Homo sapiens: one gene and its partners. The protein of the gene in region 7 purifies or fractionates together with the protein of the main gene of each other region. This does not show direct contact. Each region holds a gene or a part of one and is shown on either strand. Other genes may lie near its edges.

Region 1 (3,500 bases), on a different chromosome or scaffold from region 7:
TTTAGTAGAAACTGGGTTTCACCATGTTAGCCAGGCTGGTCTCGAACTCCTGACCTCAGGTGATCTGCCCTCCTCGGCCTCCCAAAATGCTGGGATTAAAGGCATGAGCTATCGCGCCTGGCCGTATTCTTACTTTTTAATCAGGAAAAACAAACAAACAAACAAACAAACAAAAACCAACCCTCAACTGGGAGAAAATAAGCACTGCAGAAATCTGAAAGTTAGCTGGTCTAAAAATTATTTTCTGTAGTTGAGAACATAGACTTTCTAAAGTTGAGATCTCAAATAAGAGAAGGATGACAGTTTGCTTTTCCAATGACTTAACTAGTTTTTATATATAAATCCATATATTAAAATCTTAAAGCAGGAAGATGTATTTGGAAATCTATTATCAATGGGAAAATCCTCTCTTCGTGATGCATATATGCACTGCCAGTGTATTATTAACAATGAGAAAATTCTCACTGTTCTCATTTAAGAAGTTGGTAAATTAACATAAATTAATGGTGAACGAAATTTTACCGGCTCATATAAATAAACCCAAGTGCGCACACACACACACACGCACACACATACACACACACACATGGTCTGGCCCATTCTTCTCAACCAAAAGGCCAGGAATAAAAATGAACAAGATAAGGATTTTCATCTAAGTTAGGTTTTTACTCATTTTCAGTGAGAGTGAATATTCTAGTAATTTTGCCTCTTACCTGAGACATATGCTTTATTAAGAGAAAGAGAAGGAAGGTGTTATTGGACCGTGAAACGTTTTTCCTTCTCTCTTGGGTGTCTACATTTACCATACCTTAGCCATGAGTGTTGTTCCAAATCCACCCTGATAGTTATTAGCCGAGGGAACGCCATCCATCACTCCAGGTACAGGATTATAAGTGTCACTTGACCAACACCGTCCTGAGCTCATATTTAGGATTTTAGCCAGTAGTTTTGGGTCAAGCCCTAACCTGTCAAAGGTCAAAGAAAAGAAGTGTTAAGTGTCAAAATGTACACGTCGTGCGTGACTTATTTATGTATGGGGATGCTCCATCTTCTCTCTCCATTTATTATATGTCTTCTAAAATCTAAGCAGGTTGATACGAGAGTGAAGAATCCAATTTTGAATTATAGAGTACTAAACACTACTGGTTAAATAAGAATATTTTTGAGCCAGGACCATTTTGCATTTGGAGAAAACCTTCTATGTTATCCTATTATTAAGAAAAAATAATATACAATTGCATAAAAATATTGTTGGTTTATCACACTCATGGGTTTTCTAGTCTTTGGACATTACTACATTTATATGTCACATAAGAACCTTAAAACAATATGATAATTTAAATTCTACATTCTTTACCCACAAATGATATATTTCAGAAAGAAATACTGACAGATAAACGATGCATCATGGGAGTCTGTGTGAATGCATTTATATGTATGTTTATTCCTTTAGTTTTTATGAGAATAAATGCAAGAGATGAGCCAGGAGCTGTAAACGAGCTTAAGAAAAGTTATTATAAAAGAAGACTTTTTGCTGCAAACTTTTCCTTATTTATTAAATCTTTATTAGACAATCTTGCTTATGAAGCAAGTCTGCACAGAGTTGTGACATATGCTATCTATTCAGAGACATGCATTATAGTTCTGGGTCAACTGCTGATAAGGTTACTGATCCTGATAAAACAAAGCTTGCCCAAGCAGAAACATCATTTGTTCTATCACTGGGCTGATGGCATAAACGGCTGTTCAATGTGGACCCTAGAAAAAATAATAGAATCAAAATGCTCCATTACTTGGATTCTAAAGATATAATGCAGTTTGGGAAGCACAATTTTGCTAGGTATCACTGAATCAAGTTTCAAATAAAACTTTATTCCTAGCAATTTATTTGGTTTCTTTCATACACAGAGCCATTATGAAACAATTGTCATAAAAGCTTTCCACTTTTTCTTAAAACCAACCTCTTCCAGAAAATAAAAAAAACACTGAAAAGAGACACTTATGTAAATGTTAAACAAACTGTGCATCTTGGCACGCTCAGATTGTTTACTCTGTGTGTCTAAAACACATGCCTGTTTATTTCAAAATCTGAATATCATGGCCAATAAAACATTTTTTCAGATGCTAGAGCAGGGGGCTGAGGCTAACAGCCAAAAATATGTATGGAATTACCACATAATACAACTGTTATGTAATCAGGCTTTCAAGGGGTAGCTGTGGTTCCCAGACTGCTATGTGGCATATCATGTATCTGAATTCATATGGTGGCCCATGTTATAGTGATGGATTTTACTAAGGATTGTAACAGATACAGAAATTCAGTCTAAATTGGCTATCATTCATTCTGTTCAACTGTAGATTCCCAGAGAGAAACCCAACAGTTTCATTCATTCTTTTATAAAGATCCAAGTTCACTGCATGCATAGTATGCTACTGATGCTTGCTTTCTCCTTTTAAATAAGATTAGGCTATCAGTATGCTACTGTAGTATATCACTTAGGAAAAGATAAAGCCAGTGTGCTTAGGGAATAATTGTGAAAAGTAAAATCACAATTAACAATTAGTTAATTTGCTATAACTGCAAAGTACCAAATGTTCAAGAATGCATACATCTAATATGCTCCATAAGGAGAAAATACTTTTAAAGACTCCAAAACGTCACTTTCTCTCTCCATTTGAAATATAATTTCAGGGCTTCCTAACTTAGATCTTTTAAGATGGTTCATCATATTTAAAGCAGCAGAATTCCTTCCTTCTTTCTAATCTACCAGGTTACACTCAGTAGTAGCTCACAAGAGCTTTTACAGCTAAGGAAATTCACTCTTTTCTATAATATTCAACAAAATGGTGAGCAAAGCTAATTATCCTAACTTTGTAAAACCCTACATTTTTCTTGAATGTTCAAGGAAAAGTACTGGTATTGATTGATGGAAACCCTTTCTGGTGAACACATTACTATTTAGAAGCATCCTGAGGGGCACACACAAAAAATCAGGTGGCAGTTGTTTCATTCTCACTTTTCAAATCTGATGCTTCCCCACCGTGCTGATTCCCTTCAGGAGATAGTTATTCCCTCTCCACTTCCCTCCCCCTGCCCCCACCCGCAGCAAAGTGTATCATTAAAAAGAGCAAGTTAGAAGTGTTTTGCATTTCATCTTTCTGAGGATTCGTTCTCTGGCACATACATAACTGACAGTTAAAATTAGACATGATATTAAAATCAGTTACTGAAGTCCTCTGTTTTCCACTGTGCCCAAGGCTTGTAATGGTCTGAAACCAGCTAGAATACACAGTAATTGTCATTCAGAGTCTATCCTAGAACGTCATGCTTCACTGGAGAAGACTGAGTTTCCATTCGAAATCAACAAATTAATCCAAGACAGGTATCTGAAAGGGCAAGTTTAATAGGAAGCAGCTACTGGGCTCTCAACCATGATAAAATGTTATTGCTGTTTCCCTGTAAATTGGCTGGGAACATATGATACTTTCTGCATAAGAGC
Region 2 (2,880 bases), on a different chromosome or scaffold from region 7:
CCCTAATTTGGTGCTGTCTGGCTCTTAGAGTGCACCCAGGGAGATCCCTGGAGTGAAGGAGTCTACAGGCAGAGCGCTAATTTCCAAGTATCAATGCTCCTGGAGAGCTGAGTTGTGATATTACTCCCATTCCCTGTCTATTATAGGTCGAAGTACAGCCTGGGGCCTCCAGGACTGGTCACGACCTTCCTGGTCCCTGGTATTGACTATCAGCTTCCTTGGCCACCTGCTATGAGCCTGTCTCTACAGTAGAAGGAGATTGTGGGGAGAGAAATCTTAAGTCATAATGAATAAAGTGCAAACAGAAGTGCATCCTGATTATTTTCAGAAGCTGATGAGGAATATGGGTAAAATGTTAATGCTTTCCACCCACCTGAGAATCAGTGTTCCTGGGTTGCCATATCTGGAGTCTCTTTCCATCATAAATAATCCCACTGCCTCTTTTCATTTCCTGAAGGCTGCTCCCTCCTCACCCCACCATTAGAAGTAACACAGACAGCTGCAGCATAGCAAGGAGTCTTTACTAGGATGGAGGCAGGGGATGCGGGGGCAGGTCCAGAGCAAGTAGAATGGGCCATCATTAGAATGAGCAGAACTCCTGGGAATCTTGAGTCATCAGCTGGCGATGGGGAGTTAATGCTTGGTGTGGATGACAGGTGTGGGGATGCGGATATCCTGGCCTCTCTCCAGACGCCGTTCACAATCAATCAAATAGTTTACTCCATCGATGACCAGTTGCACCAGCTCCACCTAAGGGACACTAATCTTTGATCTGCTTCCTACAGTCTGAGTTTTTCTTTATCACTGACTGACTTGCCTGCTCATTTCCAATTGCCTCCCCACTCAACCTGAATTTCATTTCAGATTATCTTACATCCCGGAGGCTCACTCACTGCCATATTTCGGCCCTCGCAGACCTATACCTCTCCTTGTCCTAATCCCTTAGGATCTCACCTCTGATTTGCCTAGTCGGTCCAAATTAGAAATATCAAAGACACCGCCTGTAGCAGCAGTGTCCACTCCTCCAGTACCACGTTTTTGGAGTCTTAGGTTCTCCAGGATCTTTGGGAAGCGGCTATCCTAGAGAGGAGATAGGGATTGGGAGCAGGGTCAATAGAGGCAGAGACTAGTCCTACCTGAAAGAGCCCTGAACCTGCTCAGAGCTCTGTCTCCTGAACTTTTTTTTTCCTTTTTTCTTTTTTCTTTTTTAATTTTTTTTAGACAGGGTCTCTCTCTGTCACCCAGGCTGGAGTGATCACAGCTCACTGAAGCCTCGACTTCCCAGGCTTAAGTGATCCTCTCACCTCAGCCTCCACTACACCCAGCTAACTTTTGTATTTGTAGTAGAGATGGGGTTTCACCAGGTTGCCCAGGCTGGTCTTGAACTCCTGGGCTCAAGTAATCTGCCTGCCTTGGCCTCCCAAGTGTTGGGATTAGAGGCATGAGCCACTGTGCCTGGCCTGTCCTCTGACCCTTTAGCCACAACATGTTTGGCTCCTTTCCAAAGGGTCCACTCCCTCCCCATCCACAACCCACCCTTCCTTACTCACACCCCTCTGTAACCCCACAACTCCTTTACTTTGCTTAGCAGGGGCAGTTTGATGTGCACTCCTGCCCGAAGTCCAGTGCCCAGGTTAGATGGACAGGTCAAGATGTATCCCAAACGCTCATTCCACATGAACTCCCAGCCACGTTCTTGGATAAGTCTCTCCACCTGAGTCCACAAAGGTTTTGTTAACGAAAAATCAGGGATATTTCATTAACCCTGGACCCTCCCTTAGCTAGACCCACAAGAACACTAGAAATATGTCTAGAACAGAAACTTGGCTGTGAATGAATGACATTGGTCTTTTTTTAAATGAAAAAGGTTTGTTATTGTTTTCATGCATGCATGATGCAAAATTATGATGTGCATAATAATGAGATTGTGAAAAAATATCTTATGTGGAAGAAGAAAACTCGAAGGAGTGGTGTATTAAGGATGATCTAGGGAAATGAACAGAGGTGGTAAACTGAACTGAGAGATGACTGATTATTCAATGAGGTCTGCATGCATCGATTATCTTTGCTTTGCTAATGAGCCTAGAGCTTAGAAGGGTCCCTTCAGACAGAAGATGAAGGTGTAAGCTTTGCCAGGAAGAGGTAAGATAACATTCTGTTAGCTGTGAACGGAGCACCTGTGTGAATGCAGAGAAAGATGAAAACAGAGCAGAAAAGCCAGATTCATAGGAATAGGGGGCGGGGGGAAGGCGTTTGGCTTCACTTAACCATGTAGTCATGAAGATGACTATTAGAGTTCAAGAGACAAGGGATCTAGCAGAATGATGGTCACAAAGACCACAACCCAACATGAGTAAAGGGATCCTCTTTATAGTTCAGAAGGAACCATGCCATAGGGGATATCTTACATGCTGAACATGGGGGGAAACTCTTCCATCCAGAATAATATTGCAGCTAACACTTTAACACTTATTAAGCACTTACTGTGGACCAAGTACTTTACCTGTATTTCACTTAATCCCCACAACAACCTAAAATGTAGAAAATCTCATTATCCCAATTTTACAGATGAGGAAACTGAGGCATATAATTTAAAGGTACTTCCCTACCCACTCATAGTCAGAATATGTTATCTATTACTTGCCAAAAATAGTAGAAACTTCTCAGAATCTAAAAGAGGAGCTCTTTTTCTTTGCAAACCTAAAATAGAACTGTATGTTTGAGAACATACAGTAAGAATTGAATTGAGTTTATGGGGATTTCTAATGTAGACTTGAATACGGAGACCCAATCCATGTAGGATTGATGATTCAGTTCAACCTCTCATCTAGAGCCACATATTCTAGAACTTGAACCATTCTATCCTCCACCTTCCCCAGT
Region 3 (4,094 bases), on a different chromosome or scaffold from region 7:
GACCCTCCACGCTGAAGCCCCTCATCTCTATTTCAACTCTAGCATTCATTCTCCTTGCTACCAGGACAAAGGTCAAATCATACCTGGAGCTGGGAAACAAAGCCCTCTCAAATCTGAATATGTGTTTCACGAGGAGAGAGAGAGCAGCAGAGGGGACCACGAGGAAGGCAGAGATTCCCTGACCACCTCATGCCTTTGTACACCACTCGCCTTTACTCTCTGGATTAAACAGCATTAGGGAGACAAGAGAGGAAACACATGTGGTGTCTGGAGACCTGTGCCTGCCTGTTCCAGTCCCACACCCAGTCATCTCACCACACCCTTCACCTCACTTTACCTTCTCCTCCAGCACAGGAACTAGGAACTACGGAGAGAGAAGCCAAGGGAGAGGAGGAGGAGGAAACTAACGATTCCCTGCCCACCCCCACACCCAGCACCACCAACAGGTGGGCAAGCTTGCCGAGAAAACGCAGAGGGCATCCTGTGAGCAGCAAACACATCTGAGCCTGGAAAAGACGCAGAGAAGTAAAAGATCAAAGGTGAGGTAGGGGACGTGGAGGAAAGTGGGAGAGACAAAAGGAAAACAAAAAGTGGGGGATCATGAGAAGCAGAGGCAGGAAATAACAGGGCTTCAGACTTGGGTGCAGAATGGAGGTGGAGGACACAGCACAGATGGCATAAGAATTAATATTTCCTTGGTTCCTCCCAGGGAGTCCTTTCTCAACTTTGTAAGGCGTGCACAGAGGTGGCAAGGAAGCACCTTGCTCCTCTTCCTGGTTCTAAGGAAAAGGTGACCTTGAGCCAGTGGGTGTCTTTCCCAGTGCCTGCCTCTAACCCTGTGCTTTCTCCATATCCTCCTCTGGTATCTGTGTTTATTCCGCGGTTTCCCCGCGGCTGCCCCCGGGAGACCGAAGAGGTGGCTGGGGCAGGCCGAAAGCAGAGGAAAGGTTGGGCAGTGTCACCCTTGCACACCCACAGGGTAGACGGATCGAGTTTCAGCTTAAACCGAGGGGTGTGGGGGAAGGGTGTTGGGTTCAGCTAGTCCACGTGGGTGCTGTCCTCCACTTGGTGCTGAAATCTGGGCGGCCACATCCCCGGGGCGGGAGGGGGCTACATCCCCGGCTTTAGACGCGCGAGTCTCAGGTCCCGCTAATTACCTGGCGGGTGCTGCCCACCCCTGCCCTCGCGCACCTAGCGCGGTGGCAGGCGGGAAGGCGGGGCCTGGGGGAGCCCCACCCCTGGAGACTGCGGCTGGGGCCTCCCTCTCCTCCGCCCGCCCGCCTGCCACTAGCTCATTGCGCCTCTCCTGCAGTCTGATTGGCACCGGCTCCCATTCCGGCTCCAGCCTCCAATCCGACCCCCATTTCGGCTGCAGCCTCGGACCTAGCTCCGGCCCTCGGTCTATCCGGTTGCATCCTCCCTCCCTGTTCCGGATCTTATCTTGCGCCAGCGCCTACTCCAGGATCCCGTAGCCAGACCTCAAGCCATGGCTGGTCCCTTCTCCCGTCTGCTGTCCGCCCGCCCGGGACTCAGGCTCCTGGCTTTGGCCGGAGCGGGGTCTCTAGCCGCTGGGTTTCTGCTCCGACCGGAACCTGTACGAGCTGCCAGTGAACGACGGAGGCTGTATCCCCCGAGGTAACAGTGCCTGAGGCGCGGGAGGAGGCGGGGGCAGGAGGTGATGGGAACGAAGGTGCGGGTAGAAGTGAGAATCCGGGCAACAGAGAAGGGCTATAATCACGAAGGCCCTGGAGCTGGAGGGCTGTGCAGTCTGCAGACCTCAGTGGGGTGGGGGTGGGGGCCAAAACCATAAAGCAAGAACATTCCTGGGGACCTGCCAAGACCAGCTCTGGCCCTACGAGTTCTAGCTGCACTGGCTGCCCAAATCCCTAATTGTAAAGCCAGGAACTATCCTTTTCGCTCCCCTCCATCTCCTTCCCTCATTTCCTCAATTCCTCTCCTTAGGCTTTTCCCCTCCTCCATCCGTAGTGTTGTGTCATGGGAGGAAAGAACTGAGCAGATCTGAAGAAACTGAGCTGGCCAGCCAGAGGCAACTAGAACTATTAGGAAAGCATAGACTCTGAAAGTCCCTAAAGAGATTACCAAGGTTTACCCTCTTTCTAATTCCCCCTCCTCCCGCGGAGCAAAGCCAGACATGGCCAACTGGACAGCTCCCAGGTAACTGCACTAGGTCTAGGCGTCTGTGCCCTCCCTCCATGGTTACTGGGTACCCCCTCCCCAGCGCTGAGTACCCAGACCTCCGAAAGCACAACAACTGCATGGCCAGTCACCTGACCCCAGCAGTCTATGCACGGCTCTGCGACAAGACCACACCCACTGGTTGGACGCTAGATCAGTGTATCCAGACTGGCGTGGACAACCCTGGCCACCCCTTCATCAAGACTGTGGGCATGGTGGCTGGAGATGAGGAGACCTATGAGGTAGGGGGTCCCCAGAGTCTCCCTGATGATCCAATTCATCTTCCCAGTAATCCCAGCTCCTTTCCCCTAAAGACCTCTCACTTTCCCCCAAGACTCTGAGCCCCCCATACTTAAGTTTTCTGAACCAGTGAAATCAATGCACAATTGAAGTCTGGGGAGGGATTCCCTCTCCTTAACCATCTCTCCCTCTTAACTCCCCTTAGGTATTTGCTGACCTGTTTGACCCTGTGATCCAAGAGCGACACAATGGATATGACCCCCGGACAATGAAGCACACCACGGATCTAGATGCCAGTAAAGTGAGTTCAAATATCCCACTTCTGATTTGCATTGCCTGTGTACAACACTCTGTATCTCCAACCCCTTCACCTTATTTCCTGACTCATGGTCATTATACAGCTGAGCTTTTAATCTTAATGTAAGGAAAGAATCATATCTTAAGGGGCAGCATATATGGAGATGGAAGGATAGATAAGAATGACCATGACCCAAGGTGGGTGGTTTGGGGAAAGGTCTGCAATGCCCCCTTCAATTCCAGTGCTTTCCCAAAGGGCCTCTTCTTCCAATGCATGCAGGAAGAATGCACAAAGAGTCCTCTAATGCCTAAGGAAGGTCTCTCCTTTCCCAGGGGCCCTCAGTTCCCACCGTGTTTCTGTGACTTACATTCATTTCCCTTATCTCCCAGATCCGTTCTGGCTACTTTGATGAGAGGTATGTATTGTCCTCTAGAGTCAGAACTGGCCGAAGCATCCGAGGACTCAGTCTGCCTCCAGCTTGCACTCGAGCAGAGCGACGAGAGGTGGAACGTGTTGTGGTGGATGCACTGAGTGGCCTGAAGGGTGACCTGGCTGGACGTTACTATAGGCTCAGTGAGATGACAGAGGCTGAACAGCAGCAGCTTATTGATGTGAGGGCCTTAAGAGGGTGCTGGTTGGTGGGAGCAGATGGGGAAGGCTGGGCCAGATGAGACATGGGCTCTGAAAGGCCCAGGGGCCACCATGAAGATTCTTAACCCAAGTCCCGTTACTCTTCCCAGGACCACTTTCTGTTTGATAAGCCTGTGTCCCCGTTGCTGACTGCAGCAGGAATGGCTCGAGACTGGCCAGATGCTCGTGGAATTTGGTATGAAGCTGCTCATTACCTCTTTTGTCTTCATGCCCTCATAAATGCTTTTTTTCCCTCTATCTCTCCCAATTCTTGCCTTGCCTCTTGATCACTGTCCCTCTCCGGCCCTCAGGCACAACAATGAGAAGAGCTTCCTGATCTGGGTGAATGAGGAGGATCATACACGGGTGATCTCCATGGAGAAGGGTGGTAACATGAAGAGAGTGTTTGAAAGATTCTGCCGAGGCCTCAAAGAGGTTAGAGAAGATTGTGTAGGGGAGCTAGGTGGGAGGACATAAGGAAAACCAAAGAGTAGCATAAATAGATTATGTAATTTATCAACCAACCCAAGACATGTCTGATGGTAAAAAGGACTACCTAGGACTCACTCTAGGACTAAAGGTATAAACCAGCTGGGACCATACTGGGAAAACCAGGACATGTGGTCACACTAAGATTAGGAAAAGAGTGTCAGGAACCTTAGAAAGTGAAGAAGGCAGGTAATGCAAAGAAGGAATAACTGAGATGGCACGTCAGTGCCTGGGATGTGTG
Region 4 (3,500 bases), on a different chromosome or scaffold from region 7:
GAATGTGACCCAAGAAGGGTGGGATGGCTCTTCAACTAGAGCTGTCATCATTAAAACAGTTGGGATGACCACATCCCTTCCAGAAGCCTTACACTGGAGCTCCATTTCTACAAGGAGAAGAGCCAGCTACAAACTACTCTGCAAGAAAACATACTATAAAATCAGCACCAGGTGCCAGGAGCTATCTATTGTGGAAATCTGTGCTATTACCACTTACCTAGTTTTAGGTTTTAAAAATATTTTTCTTAGAGTTCTAATCTACAGTGTTTTATATTTGAGTCTCCCACATTTAAACTAAAACATTTTACTTTTAGAAATACCTATAAAAACTTTCAAAGTCATTTGGAAGCAATCCAATACATTTATTAAAAGAAAAACCTTGTTGTGGAATTGGAGAAGAAAAGGATGCCACTGTGATCTTGTTATCCAAGAGCGGCCTGAGAATAAGTGGGACGTTTATCACATATTCAATTTCAGCCTAAACTAACCCAGATTCTACCCTTAAGAAAATGAAGAACTTTAAAAACGTGGTTTTATACAAACCTAAAACAAAAACACAAACAGAGTATGGGTGAGCACAATACCCATGTGCAAGGGGCTGTTTGCACGGTGTGTGGATTATCTTTCATCAGATGATCCATAAGTAACTTCTGATGATATATATAGATTTAAACAGCTTGTTTATTTATTTGTGCTATACTGAGTTGATAGTTTTAAGAGAGTATATAAATCAGTTCCCATATTTAACACAGTTTTCAAACCTCTAAATTTTCTAAACTGTCCTATTGAGCAGTTCTCTCTCCAGATTCTCCATAGGATGTTAAGAAAAGTTCTATGGGGAAAAAAAGGGAAGGGGATTCAGAATTAAGTTAGTTTAAAAGTCTTTTTCATGATTCTTTTAAAAAGGTGCAAAGGTGGATTGGCAGATTGGGAAGCTCTAAGGTGTGGGGATGGAGGAGGGTTATTTGTATAAAAAGTTGTTTGTACAAAAAGAATTTAGCACCATTAACACATATATATGCAAACATTAATATGTATGGAGGAAAGGGAGGAGCGAGGGGGAGGGAAGGAGTGAGAGAGAGAGAAAGAGCGAGCCTGGGAGAGCGAATGCAAGAACAAAACTACCAAAAGTATTGCCTCAGACAAATAAACATATTTACATTTTCAAGCTGAAAAAAATCAAGAAACTATCCTTTATTCTCCCAAAAGAAATTTTTTTGTATCACTATTTGTAAAACTTACTATTTTTCCAAGGCAAGCAGTAGAAACTAGAGTGCTTTGACATGCTGCCAGCATTCACAGTGATTTAAAAGCACGGCCATGGCATTGCTACAAACCATAATTTAAAAGGGTTGGAAGCTGCCCTTTTGTAACAGGGATATACATATATGGATTTAAGTGTGGGCCTCTGTGACAGAATTCAACACAAGTATTAATCCATTTATGGTAGGGAATTTTTAGTTTTCACCCAGCTCTAAATCAATCAGAAATTCTGAACAGATGTATGTTATAATCAAGTAACGCATTTTTAATAAAATGCAACTGTTTTATTAGGAGACTTTAACAAAGGTAAAGCAAAACAATAATTCTGTTACTTAATATGATAAATGACATGGTTGCAATTATATTAATTATACCTTCAATGTGAAATAACTGGCTATAAACTCCTGGAAACCTTGGGTCTGTGTCATACATTTCAATAAACACTCTTTATCTCTATATATTACTTGAAAGCATTCCCAGCAGATAGTGTTTCTTATTGGGTCATTATTAGGCTTCCTGAACCTTTTATTTTCCTCTACTGTTGTAATCATGGGCACACTGAAAAAGGAGAGAGCTCACAGTAAAAGTACACCTTTGTCCACAAGGATGTCTGTGTCACAACAATCACACTTCAGAGGCGACAGCCTGGTGCAGTTCAAAGTTCACTGGCCCTGAGAGTGAAAAATGTGCATTCTAATATCTACTCTGCCATGGAGAAAGGTTTTGGAAAACTCTGAGTTCAAATTCAGCTCTGCCATCTATAAGCCATAACTTTAGTAAGTTATTTAACTTTCCTACGTCTTTGATTTCTCATACATAATAAAATAAATATTAGGAGGATTAGGTACAATCAGGTACATACAGTGCTGTGGTAAGCAGAATGTTAACATGGCCCCTATGACTTCTGTCCCCTGGTGTTACTTTCATGATTATGTTACTTTTATATGGCAAATGGGAGATTTTCCAGGCGTGCCTACTCTAATCATGTGAGCCCTTAAAAAGCAATGAATTTTCTCTGGCTCGCAGCAGAAGAGGAAGTTGGAGGCATGTGAGGTGCAGGAAGGATTCTAAGCAGTGGTGCTGGCTTTGAAGATGGAAGGCATTGTACCTCAATGAATGTGACTGGTTTCTAGAAGCTGAGAGTAGCCAGCCCCCAGCTGACAGCCAACAAGGAAACAGGGACCTTGGTTCTCCAACCACAGAAAATAGATTCTACCAACAAGAATGAGCTTGAAAGCAGATTCTTCCCTCGCACTTAAAGGTGAGTACTTTTAGCCTGGCCAACACCTTCATTTCAGCTTTTTGAGGTGCTAAGCATAGACAGCTAAGCCAGCTCCCCTATCCCAGACTTCTAACCTGAAAAATAATGGATGTTGGCTGGGCACAGTGGCTCATGTCTGTAATCCCAGCACTTTGGGAGGCTGAGGCTGGTGGATCTGCTGAGGTCAGGGGTTTGAGACCAGCCTGGCCAACATGGTGAAACCCCGTCTCTACTAAAAATAGAAAAAATTAGCTGGGCGTGGTGGCGGGCGCCTGTAATCCCAGATACTCGGGAGGCAGGCAGGAGAATCACTTGAACCTAGGAGGCAGAGGTTGCAGTGAGCCGAGATCGCACCATTGCACTCCAGCCTGGGCAACAAGGGTGAAACCCCATCTCAAAAATAATAATAATAATAATAATAATAATAATGATGGATGTTGAGTTAACAGTTGTTGCTTTAACTTGCAAAGTTTGTAGTAATTTGTTATGCAGCAGTAGAAAATTATTACAAGTGCTTACTGGTGTGTGACACATAGAAATCATTCACAAATTATATTATTAATAACTCATGGGCTCAAACAAGTCATTTTAACTTCCTTTGGTTTAGGTCTTTGATCTGTAAAATGAGGTTAGACTAGTTAAGTTACAAGTTCACTCTAAATTCCTAATAATTAATTTTTAGTCTCCTGCAACTATGGTGATACACCTTGATCCGGCATCTTCCATTCACCTCTCCAGATTCATTCTCCATGCCTCAGTACTCTGTGCTATTTCCCAGAAGGCTGATCCTTAAGGACTACACCTGTGGGATCCCTTGTCACTGGCAATGGGACAATGGGAGGTGCCAGCAGAAAATCAGAGTGATGAAGAATGAGGTCTGGGTATTTATCTCCTGGCTTTCTGTAAGTATACAAGGTGATAAAAAGGAAAATGATTCCTAACAACTTGGGGGTATGTGGAAGCAGGGGAAGGGGGT
Region 5 (3,500 bases), on a different chromosome or scaffold from region 7:
GAGATTTACTAGTAACAATAGCTACCATTTTTTGAGCAAGTACTTTACATCCAGCACTGTGCTTCACAACAATCCTAAGACAGATATTACAATTATCCCTATAGTACAGACAAGCAAACTGACACTTAAAGAATTTAGAGAACTTGCTGAAGTCACATAGCTAGGATATGGCAGAAGCTGGAATCAAGTCCAAATCTGTTGAGTTCCAACTACCTTCCAAATACAGCATTTAGACACCTAAACCAGGAGAGACATTGCCAGAAATCCTGTGGCTTCTCCAAGATGGCAGAAGCTCCCTAACAAAGGTCCCTGGATCTTCTGGTGACCTGCTCCTCCCAGCCAGCCTGCCTACTGGGGGATAATAGAAATAGGCACAAATGCCTCTGTCGAGAAGAGCAAGTTGCCTGTGGCCTGTAGGCAAGCTCACAGTTGATACTTCACAATGAAGTGTTTTATACACTTCCATTGAATAAATGAATTCAGTGATGAGAGGCCGGTAGAAACCACCCTCATCAGTCCCCCATCCTCACACCTTCACCCTCTTTCCCAAATAACTTTAACACTTCACATGCCTGAAAATTGCTCATCAGAAATCCCTTCCTTTGACTGTGATAAGGAGGCATAAGGTCTACTTCTAAGAGTGCTCAAGGATTTTCAAAAATCTTATTAAAAGAAGTTGAAAAAAAGCAGGAAAAACGTTCAGAAATTGACAAATCAGTCAACAGAACTAAATAGACACTAGACAAACAGAATATGTGAGAATTTAGAAAATAAAAAGCAGAACTCAAATTGATGCGGAAAGGAAGAACTAAACAAGAAATAATGTTATGAAAATTCAAGAAGAAAAATAATAGATTGCTACCTCACTTCAGATTTTTAAAAATCCAGATGAATTAAAGAATTTTTAAAAATATAAGCATTAAAAGAAAATGTCAGGGGATATTTTTATGACTCGGATTGGGAAAACCTTTCATAAGCAAGGCACAAATCTTAGAAACTCTGGAAGAAAATATTGACAAATCCAGTTACATTCAAATTTTAAACTTCTGCATGGAAAAAGATCCCATAAACAAAAGCAAGTAGTGGTCCTGATATGTGGAGAAAACTCCTTTCACCATATGTAACAGAACAAGGATTCATCACCAAAAGTGATAGAATTCCTACAAATCAACTTTTTTTTTTTTTTTTTTTTTTTTTTTTTGAGACAGAGTTTCACTCTTATTGCCCAGGCTGGAGTGCAATGGCGCGATCTTGGCTCACTGCAACCTCCGCCTCCCGGGTTCAAGCGATTCTCCTGCTTCAGCCTCCCGAGTAGCTGGGATTATAGGCATGCACCACAAATCCACTTTTTTAAAGGATAAAGAGCACAATAAAAAATAGATAAATATATAAATAGGCAATGCACAGAAGAACTACAAAGTGGTCACTAGTTTCACTAGTTTATAGACTCTTCAACGCTAGATATCAAGGAAATATAGATTTTTAAATATGATATTTTTGGGCATCATTTTGGCAGAAAGAAAATGAATAATATTCAGCATTGGTGAGCATGGAGGGAAACAGGAGTGTACACTGCATGACCTTTTTGGAGGGCAACTGGGCAGTGGGTGGGTAAGCACATTTTTAGTGGTCATTTCTTTGCAGCCAGCACTGACACCTTAGAAAATTGGTAACACACTGAGGAAACACAACCTCCTTTCAAGTGGTCAGCTCAGGACCAAAAGTCAAAGTTCAACTGACAAGAAGCAGGCATGGAGCAAGAGGAGAAGGGACCACCCAGAGTCATCATCTTATCACCTTGTCTCTCTAGCATCAAGTTCCAGAGCCCACATCTCAGGCCCAGTCCTGCTCCAGAGGCTCTACCAATCACTCCCTTGGGCCTTAAGGGTCCATCCTTCTTCAATGTTCTCTCCAAAGCTGCCAAAATGCTCCCCAAACCTTGCAAACCTGCTCCCCACAGGCAACACTAGCTGGAGAGCATGCAGACTCCCCAAAGTCCACCCATTCTTGTAGCCCCTGAACAAGCACAGAAACAGCACTATTGTTTCTTTCATGAGCATGGACTCTCTGGATGGATCTCCCTTGTAAAGATTTATGCTGTAGTCTCTTCACTTTTCCCTCAAACCAGCCTTCTTTGGTGCCAGGGAAACTAAGAGTCCCCAGTCAGACTCCTACAGATGAGCATCAGGTCTCACCTCTCCCAAGGGCAGAAACTGTCACTCAGGAGACCTTGGTCCCACATTAGAACCAGACATCCCACATCAGTCAGAGTTAATGAGCTTCCAAGGCCTCTTACAACCTCAACTACCCACTCTATCCACTCATTCAATCAGCACATATTCACAGACAGCCTGAATCCAACCTACCTCCTGCTGGACCCTCAAAGCCCCTGCACCCAAGCCCCTTCCCTCCTCACGCCACAACGCACCCCCTTCAAAGACTTTGCCCCAAGCTGTCTGCTCCTGTCCTCTACTTATGGAAACCACAGCCCTAACCAAATGCACCCATCTGCTCACATCCTCTGCAGTTTGCGATTAAAACTTCTCCAGTGTCCAGAGATCCTCCCCTCTCTTTGTCATTCCTTGGGTGAGGAAGCAAGTCTCTCTCTACACAGCACCAAATTCTGATGTTCACTGCCCTCTGCGTGTGGCTTCTGTGTCTGCACTGTGGCGGGAACAGGCACTTCCCACACTTCCTACAAGTCCTCCCGCTCCCCTGTCCTTAGCTGCTGTTCAGCTAGAAAACTGCTTGATTTATGGCTGTTCGAGACAAACTGCTAACTCAGCAATGGGAATCCATTGCCATTCCTCAGGTTCACACATGCTTCCTTTCCCAAGGGGACAAGCTTGGCCTAGGAGGTAATTCTAGCATTGCCATGCCTCTGACTTAAATCATAGGGCAAGACAATGAAACTATCCAGGTCATGTTCCCCAGCTATAGGGAAGGCAGGTCTACCCTGTTTTGCACAAGATGTGTGATCCTGATTAATTTGATGGTTATTTAACTTTTGCAAACTAAATCCTTGTGTAAAGGCTGGGAACTTCCTATTTTAAAGAAATTTGAAAAGAAATTTGGCATGGAAAGATTTATTCCCTTCTTAATCTTTCTTCAAGTACTGATATGAAGGTATGGATGTGCTTCAGTAAATTAAATACCATTACCAGTGTTTAGTTTAGTGGTCCTGACCAGCAATGCTACTTAATGAAACAGAAGAAAATACCAGAATGCATCATATGTAAAAAGAGTAAGTATTATTTCATAAAATTTGTGTGTGTCTGTGTGTACACATATGTATGAGTGTTTAAGTTATGACATAAAACAAATTTCTTATTGTGGGTCACAGTCAAAGTTTAAAAGCCACTGATACATGGTAATATTATTTAAATATTTTCCGGCATATTAGGTATATTTAAGATGTGAGTTCCAAACAAGATGCTTTATTATTTTAAGCCAACGTTTTCCAAACTTTTTTGACTGAGGTTCATTGTAAGAAACACATC
Region 6 (3,500 bases), on a different chromosome or scaffold from region 7:
CTATCCATGACTTCTTCCTCCCCCAAAAAGGCCCGAGCAACTCCAGCCCCTAAAGGAATCCCAGCTTCCCCATCCCCCAAAGGGGCCCCCACACCCCCAGCTGCAACTCCTCCCTCCCCTAAAGGAGGCCCAGCTACCCCATCCCCGAAATGGGCCCCCACACCCCCAGCTGCAACTCCTCCCTCCCCAAAAGGAGGTCCAGCTACTCCATCCCCCAAAGGGGCCCCCACACCCCCAGCTGCAACTCCTCCCTCCCCCAAAGGAGGTCCAGCTACTCCATCCCCCAAAGGGGCCCCCACACCCCCAGCTGTGACTCCTCCCTCCCCCAAAGGAAGTCCAGCAGCTACCCCATTCCCCAAAGGGGCATCCACACCCCCAGCTGCAACTCCTCCCTCCCCCAAAGGAAGTCCAGCAGCTACCCCACTCCCCAAAGGGGCCCCCACAACCCCAGCTGCAACTCTTCCCTCCCCAAAAGGAGGTCCAGCTACCCCATCCCTCAAGGGGGCCCCCACTCCCCCAGCTGCGACTCCTCCCTCCCCAAAAGGAGGCCCAGCTACCCCATCCCCCAAAGGGGCCCCCATGCCCCCAGCTGCAACTCCTCCCTCCCCAAAAGGAGGTCTAGCTACCCCACCCCACAAAGGGGCACCCACAACCCCAGCTGCAACTCCTCCCTCCCCAAAAGGAGGTCTAGCTACCCCACCCCCAAAAGGGGCCCCCACAACCCCAGCTGCAACTCCTCCTTCCCCAAAAGGAGGTCTAGCTACCCCACCCCCAAAAGGGGCCCCCACAACCCCAGCTGCAACTCCTCCTTCCCCAAAAGGAGGTCTAGCTACCCCATCCCCCAAAGGGGCCCCCACAACCCCAGCTGCAACTCCTCCCTCCCCAAAAGGAGGTCTAGCTACCCCATCCCCCAAAGGGGCCCCCACAACCCCAGCTGCAACTCCTCCCTCCCCAAAAGGAGGTCTGGCTACCCCATCCCCCAAAGGGGCCCCCACAACCCCAGCTGCAACTCCTCCCTCCCCAAAAGGAGGCCCAGCTACCCCACCCCCCAAAGGGGCCCCCACTCCCCCAGCTGCAACTCCTCCCTCCCTAAAAGGAGGTCTAGCTACCCCACCCCACAAAGGGGCCCCCAATCCCGCAGTTGTAACTCCTCCCTCTCCAAAAGGAGGCCCAGCTACCTCACCCCCCAAAGGGGCCCCCACTCCTCCAGCTGCAACTCCTCCCTCCCCAAAAGGAAGCCCAGGTACCCCACCCCCCAAAGGGGCCCCCACTCCCCCAGCTGTAACTCCTCCCTCCCCTAAAGGGACCCCTACTCTCCCAGCTACAACTCCCTCCTCTAAAGGAGGCCCAACTACTCCATCCTCCAAAGAGGGCCCCACTCCCCCAGCTGCAACCCCCTCCCACAAAGGAGGTCCCGCTATGACTCCTCCCTCCCCCAAAAGAGGACCAGCTATCCCATCTCCCAAAGGGGACCCCACTTCCCCAGCAGTGATTCCTCTCTCCCCCAAAAAGGCTCCAGCAACTCCAGTCACCAGAGAAGGCGCAGCCACCCCATCCAAAGGAGATCTCACTCCCCCAGCAGTGACTCCTGTCTCCCTCAAAAAGGCCCCAGCAACTTCAGCCCCCAAAGGAGGCCCAGCTACCCCATCCTCCAAAGGGGATCCCACCCTCCCAGCAGTGACTCCTCCTTCCCCCAAGGAGCCCCCAGCCCCCAAACAAGTTGCCACTTCTTCCTCTCCCAAAAAGGCCCCAGCAACTCCAGCCCCCATGGGGGCCCCCACTCTGCCAGCTGTGATTCCTTCTTCCCCCAAAGAGGTCCCAGCTACCCCATCCTCCAGAAGGGACCCCATTGCCCCAACAGCGACTCTTCTCTCTAAAAAGACCCCAGCAACTCTAGCCCCCAAAGAGGCCCTCATTCCCCCAGCTATGACTGTTCCCTCCCCTAAAAAGACCCCAGCAATTCCAACCCCCAAAGAAGCCCCAGCTACCCCATCCTCCAAAGAGGCCTCCAGTCCCCCAGCAGTGACTCCTTCCACTTACAAAGGGGCCCCATCCCCCAAAGAGCTCCTCATTCCACCAGCTGTGACTTCTCCTTCCCCCAAAGAGGCACCTACTCCTCCAGCTGTGACTCCTCCATCCCCCGAAAAGGGCCCAGCAACTCCAGCCCCCAAAGGGACTCCCACTTCCCCACCTGTGACTCCTTCCTCCCTCAAAGACTCCCCTACTTCCCCAGCTTCTGTCACATGTAAAATGGGGGCCACTGTTCCTCAAGCATCTAAAGGGCTTCCAGCAAAGAAAGGCCCCACAGCTCTGAAAGAAGTACTTGTTGCCCCAGCTCCAGAAAGCACGCCAATCATCACAGCTCCCACTCGGAAAGGTCCACAGACCAAAAAGAGTTCTGCTACTTCACCTCCTATATGCCCAGATCCCTCAGCTAAGAATGGTTCTAAAGGACCCCTTTCCACAGTGGCTCCAGCCCCTCTACTCCCTGTTCAGAAAGACTCTTCAAAGACAGCAAAAGGCAAAGATGCTTCTCATTCCCCAAAGGGCCCCTTGGCTCCTCCTGAGTCTAAGGCGTCCACCCCTCTAACAGCAGCTGCCTTTGAGAAGGTCCTTCCTAAACCTGAATCAGCATCTGTCTCTGCAGCACCCTCCCCACCAGTCTCTCTGCCTCTTGCTCCCTCCCCAGTTCCCACTCTGCCTCCTAAACAGCAATTTCTGCCGTCCTCTCCTGGGCTGGTGTTGGAATCACCCTCTAAACCCCTTGCCCCTGCTGATGAGGATGAGCTGCTGCCTCTGATTCCCCCGGAACCAATCTCTGGGGGAGTGCCTTTCCAGTCGGTCCTCGTCAACATGCCCACCCCTAAATCTGCTGGAATCCCTGTCCCAACCCCCTCTGCCAAGCAACCTGTTACGAAGAACAACAAGGGTATTTGCCTTGGTTTGCCGTGTGCATGGTGTGTCTGTCGTCCACACCCCTCTTGGGCGCTACCCACCAATACTAACCCTGTGATGCGCCGCTTTCTCCAGTGAATCTGCTTGGGTTTGGATGTAGAACATAGAATGATAATTTTAAATGCAAAAGTTCTAGGAATATGAAACCAAATCTTGGTTTTCATTACTTCAGATAGATACATAGTACATTGTGTATCATTTTTGTGTAATGTGGCCCGGACTACCCTGAGCCTGCCATGCCATCTATTTTACCTAATTGATCTGACATTGAAAACCAAGACCTGCCAGACCTTTTCATTTGCTCTAATCCCTACCACATCACTAACTAACCTTGTCCCTGGGCCTGAGATTTGGTAAAATTATTGGAGAATTGAACTATTTGTATTTATTTTTCCATTATTAGACTTAGTAATGACCAGTTGCCCAGGGACTCCCTTTTCATAAAAATGTAGAAATCTGTTTTTCCTAGCCTGAAAATGGTGCAGGTGTATGCTTTTTTTCCTCAGTAGTCTTTACTGATGCTTGGCCTTTGAATTGAAAGAAAT
Region 7 (2,377 bases):
CCCCGTCTCTACTAAAAATACAGAAATTAAGCAAGCATGGTGGCACATGCCTGTGGTCCCAGCTACTCAGGAGGCTGAGGTGGGAGGCTTGCTTGAACACAGGAGGGGGAGGCTGCAGTGAGCTGAGATCATGCCACTGCACTCAAGCATGGGCGACGGAGCGAGGCTGTCTCAAAAAGAAAAAACAAAAAGCAGACTTTACTTACTCTAAAGAGGATATAATGGAGTTCAGAATGTGACTTTCCAATCAGGGGAGCACCAAGCAAGAGCTGCAGGGGGCAACGTGAATGGAGGGCTTGGCCAGGAGGGCCTCCCACCACCACCTCAGCTCACCAGGCTGACGTGAAAACCCCAAGGAGATGCGTCATTTTTTGACCAACCGTGTAAAGTTGTGACTGGATGTCCTAAAACAAACTGCCACACAAGGACTAGGGCAGTGAGAGACATTTCAAGTTAAATGCTAAAGTTTCCTCAGATAAGGTCTTCCACATCACACAAGAAGCTATTGCACATCACTCCTTTATTATACTGATATGGAAAAAGGATTTAGTACAGTTATGCTCAGATGAACACTGGACCCATGTGGCAGGGTCAAGCAACTAGAACATGATTCAGAAATCAGTGAAAGATACACTTGGACAGGACCAAGAGGCATTTCACTGCCATGAAACAAGGCAGGAAGGGATTCTAATACACACACCAGGAAGCACTCCTGCCCCTCAGAGGTCAAGGAGCTGATCCTATATTGGTATGAGGAATGGCTTATTTTCTGATGACCACATGTGGGACTATTTCAACCGCCACAAGAAACCCCAGAAGGGTTATTGTTTTGTATTATATATACTATACTTTTTTAATAAAAGTAAATTAACACATAACGAAATTCAGGATTGATCCCAACCTAGAGCCAGATCCTCTGGGGTCAGGGAGGAAACAGTTGTCACATCACCACGCAGGTTACATTCGTCTTCCACTGGAATGACTAGAGCCCCCAGGCAGTAGGCAGTGACCTGACTGCAGAAGAGCAGAGGACAGACTCCGCTCATGGGGACAGACAGGCTCTGTTGCTTCTCCTCACTGGTCATGGCTTAGCATGGTTCCTCCCCAAAGTCCTTAGTAAACAAAGCACTCGCAAAAACCCAAGTCACTACTTTTAAACTCTGTTGGATAAGGGGAGCTTTTCCATAGCTTAGACTGAGAACCTGTGCTCTAGAACTGCTATTCTGACTAGATTGTATGAAGGGAGTGGGTGCAGGCGACAAAATGGCTAAAATGAAAATGGGAGCCACTGGTCCCCGTCTGCAGCTACAACTCAAGATGTCTACAGATGTGGTCAGTGTGACATGTGCAGGTGGGAGGGGCAGAGGGACAAGACGGGCAGGGAGGGTGCTCCTGGGGACAGTATCCTCCCCGCCGGCCTTCACTTCTTGGCCTTGCCCTGGGCAGCCACAGCTTCCATGGCTTTGCGCACCGTCTCTTCATCCCCCAGAAACTGCATGGGCTTGATAGGCTTCAAGTTCTTGTCCAATTCATAGACAATGGGAATACCAGTCGGCAGGTTCAGCTCCATGATAGCCTCTTCAGAGAGACCTGAAAACATCCACCATCATCAGCCACACAAGACATAAATCCACATCACCCCTCCAGGTTTACTTTGTCCTCCAGGTGATAAAGGACTTTGACAGAAATTAAAATAAGACACCCTTTCTGATCTTTATAGTAGTTCTGAACCCAGGGAATGGCCCCCACCATACTTATTTCTCAGCCATTAAACTGAAAAGCAAGAAAAGGTATACAAGATAGACCACCAACAAACTACAGCAAGGTATATGGCCAGATATCTCTACCAAAGTGGGATCTAGAAGCCCACAGTGAAGCAAGACTACACATCTCAAATACCCTGTACAGCCCATCCAACCAAAAATCAGCACACGTGGGCCTCTAGGCCCTCGGGGATGAAGATGCAAATTGAGATTCATGTGTAAAGTTGTGCCTGGTTGTGACTAAGGAGAATTTTTTCTTTTATATATATTTGTTTTCCTTTTTTTTTTTTTTAAGAGACAAGGTCTTACTCTCTCACCCAGGCTAGAATGTAGTGGCACAATCATACCTCACTATAACCTCAAACTGCTGGGCTCAAGCGATCTCCCGCCTCAGCCTCCTGAGTAGCTGGGACTACAGATGAGCATCACCACATCAAGCTAATTTTTCATTTTTCTTTTGTACAGACAAGGTCTTGCTTTGTTGCTCAGGCTGGTTTTGAACTCCTGGCCTCCCAAGGTGCTGATAGTACAGGCATGAACCACTGTGCTTGGCCTTTTAAAATTTTGTAGAGATGCAGTCTTACTATGTTGCCCAGGCTGTCTCAAACTCCTGG

The links.
Region 1: the proteins of PGAM1 (region 7) and HIBADH fractionate together in Homo sapiens (co-fractionation; one large-scale study listed by BioGRID). This does not show direct contact.
Region 2: the proteins of PGAM1 (region 7) and CKMT1B fractionate together in Homo sapiens (co-fractionation; one large-scale study listed by BioGRID). This does not show direct contact.
Region 3: the proteins of PGAM1 (region 7) and CKMT1A fractionate together in Homo sapiens (co-fractionation; one large-scale study listed by BioGRID). This does not show direct contact.
Region 4: the proteins of PGAM1 (region 7) and TES fractionate together in Homo sapiens (co-fractionation; one large-scale study listed by BioGRID). This does not show direct contact.
Region 5: the proteins of PGAM1 (region 7) and PHGDH fractionate together in Homo sapiens (co-fractionation; one large-scale study listed by BioGRID). This does not show direct contact.
Region 6: the proteins of PGAM1 (region 7) and NACA purify together in Homo sapiens (affinity purification with mass spectrometry, with the first as the bait; one large-scale study listed by BioGRID). This does not show direct contact.

Annotation. Positions count from the first base shown.
Region 1 is NC_000007.14:27,530,384-27,533,883, forward strand, and holds part of HIBADH (3-hydroxyisobutyrate dehydrogenase, mitochondrial isoform 1 precursor), read right to left. Parts: intron 966-3,500; coding exon 809-965; intron 1-808.
Region 2 is NC_000015.10:43,597,027-43,599,906, reverse strand, and holds the end of CKMT1B (creatine kinase U-type, mitochondrial precursor), read right to left. Parts: intron 2,532-2,880; exon of another isoform or gene 1,715-2,531; coding exon 1,580-1,714; intron 1,081-1,579; coding exon 955-1,080; intron 751-954; coding exon 634-750; 3' UTR 501-633; downstream 1-500. Other genes in the region: STRC (stereocilin precursor), read left to right, coding at 147-235. UniProt on the Homo sapiens protein: Reversibly catalyzes the transfer of phosphate between ATP and various phosphogens (e.g. creatine phosphate).
Region 3 is NC_000015.10:43,692,565-43,696,658, forward strand, and holds the start of CKMT1A (creatine kinase U-type, mitochondrial isoform 1 precursor), read left to right. Parts: upstream 1-1,294; 5' UTR 1,295-1,486; coding exon 1,487-1,635; intron 1,636-1,962; exon of another isoform or gene 1,963-2,146; coding exon of another isoform or gene 2,147-2,239; coding exon 2,240-2,438; intron 2,439-2,641; coding exon 2,642-2,737; intron 2,738-3,123; coding exon 3,124-3,345; exon of another isoform or gene 3,346-3,346; intron 3,347-3,474; coding exon 3,475-3,560; exon of another isoform or gene 3,561-3,564; intron 3,565-3,675; coding exon 3,676-3,799; intron 3,800-4,094. UniProt on the Homo sapiens protein: Reversibly catalyzes the transfer of phosphate between ATP and various phosphogens (e.g. creatine phosphate).
Region 4 is NC_000007.14:116,238,039-116,241,538, reverse strand, and holds part of TES (testin), read right to left. Parts: exon of another isoform or gene 3,207-3,500; intron 2,525-3,206; exon of another isoform or gene 2,290-2,524; intron 1-2,289. UniProt on the Homo sapiens protein: Scaffold protein that may play a role in cell adhesion, cell spreading and in the reorganization of the actin cytoskeleton. Plays a role in the regulation of cell proliferation. May act as a tumor suppressor. Inhibits tumor cell growth.
Region 5 is NC_000001.11:119,714,934-119,718,433, reverse strand, and holds part of PHGDH (D-3-phosphoglycerate dehydrogenase), read right to left. Parts: intron 1-3,500. UniProt on the Homo sapiens protein: Catalyzes the reversible oxidation of 3-phospho-D-glycerate to 3-phosphonooxypyruvate, the first step of the phosphorylated L-serine biosynthesis pathway.
Region 6 is NC_000012.12:56,715,300-56,718,799, reverse strand, and holds part of NACA (nascent polypeptide-associated complex subunit alpha), read left to right. Parts: coding exon 1-2,929; intron 2,930-3,500. UniProt on the Homo sapiens protein: Cardiac- and muscle-specific transcription factor. May act to regulate the expression of genes involved in the development of myotubes.
Region 7 is NC_000010.11:97,431,568-97,433,944, reverse strand, and holds the end of PGAM1 (phosphoglycerate mutase 1), read right to left. Parts: intron 1,591-2,377; coding exon 1,421-1,590; 3' UTR 501-1,420; downstream 1-500. UniProt on the Homo sapiens protein: Catalyzes the interconversion of 2-phosphoglycerate and 3-phosphoglyceratea crucial step in glycolysis, by using 2,3-bisphosphoglycerate. Also catalyzes the interconversion of (2R)-2,3-bisphosphoglycerate and (2R)-3-phospho-glyceroyl phosphate.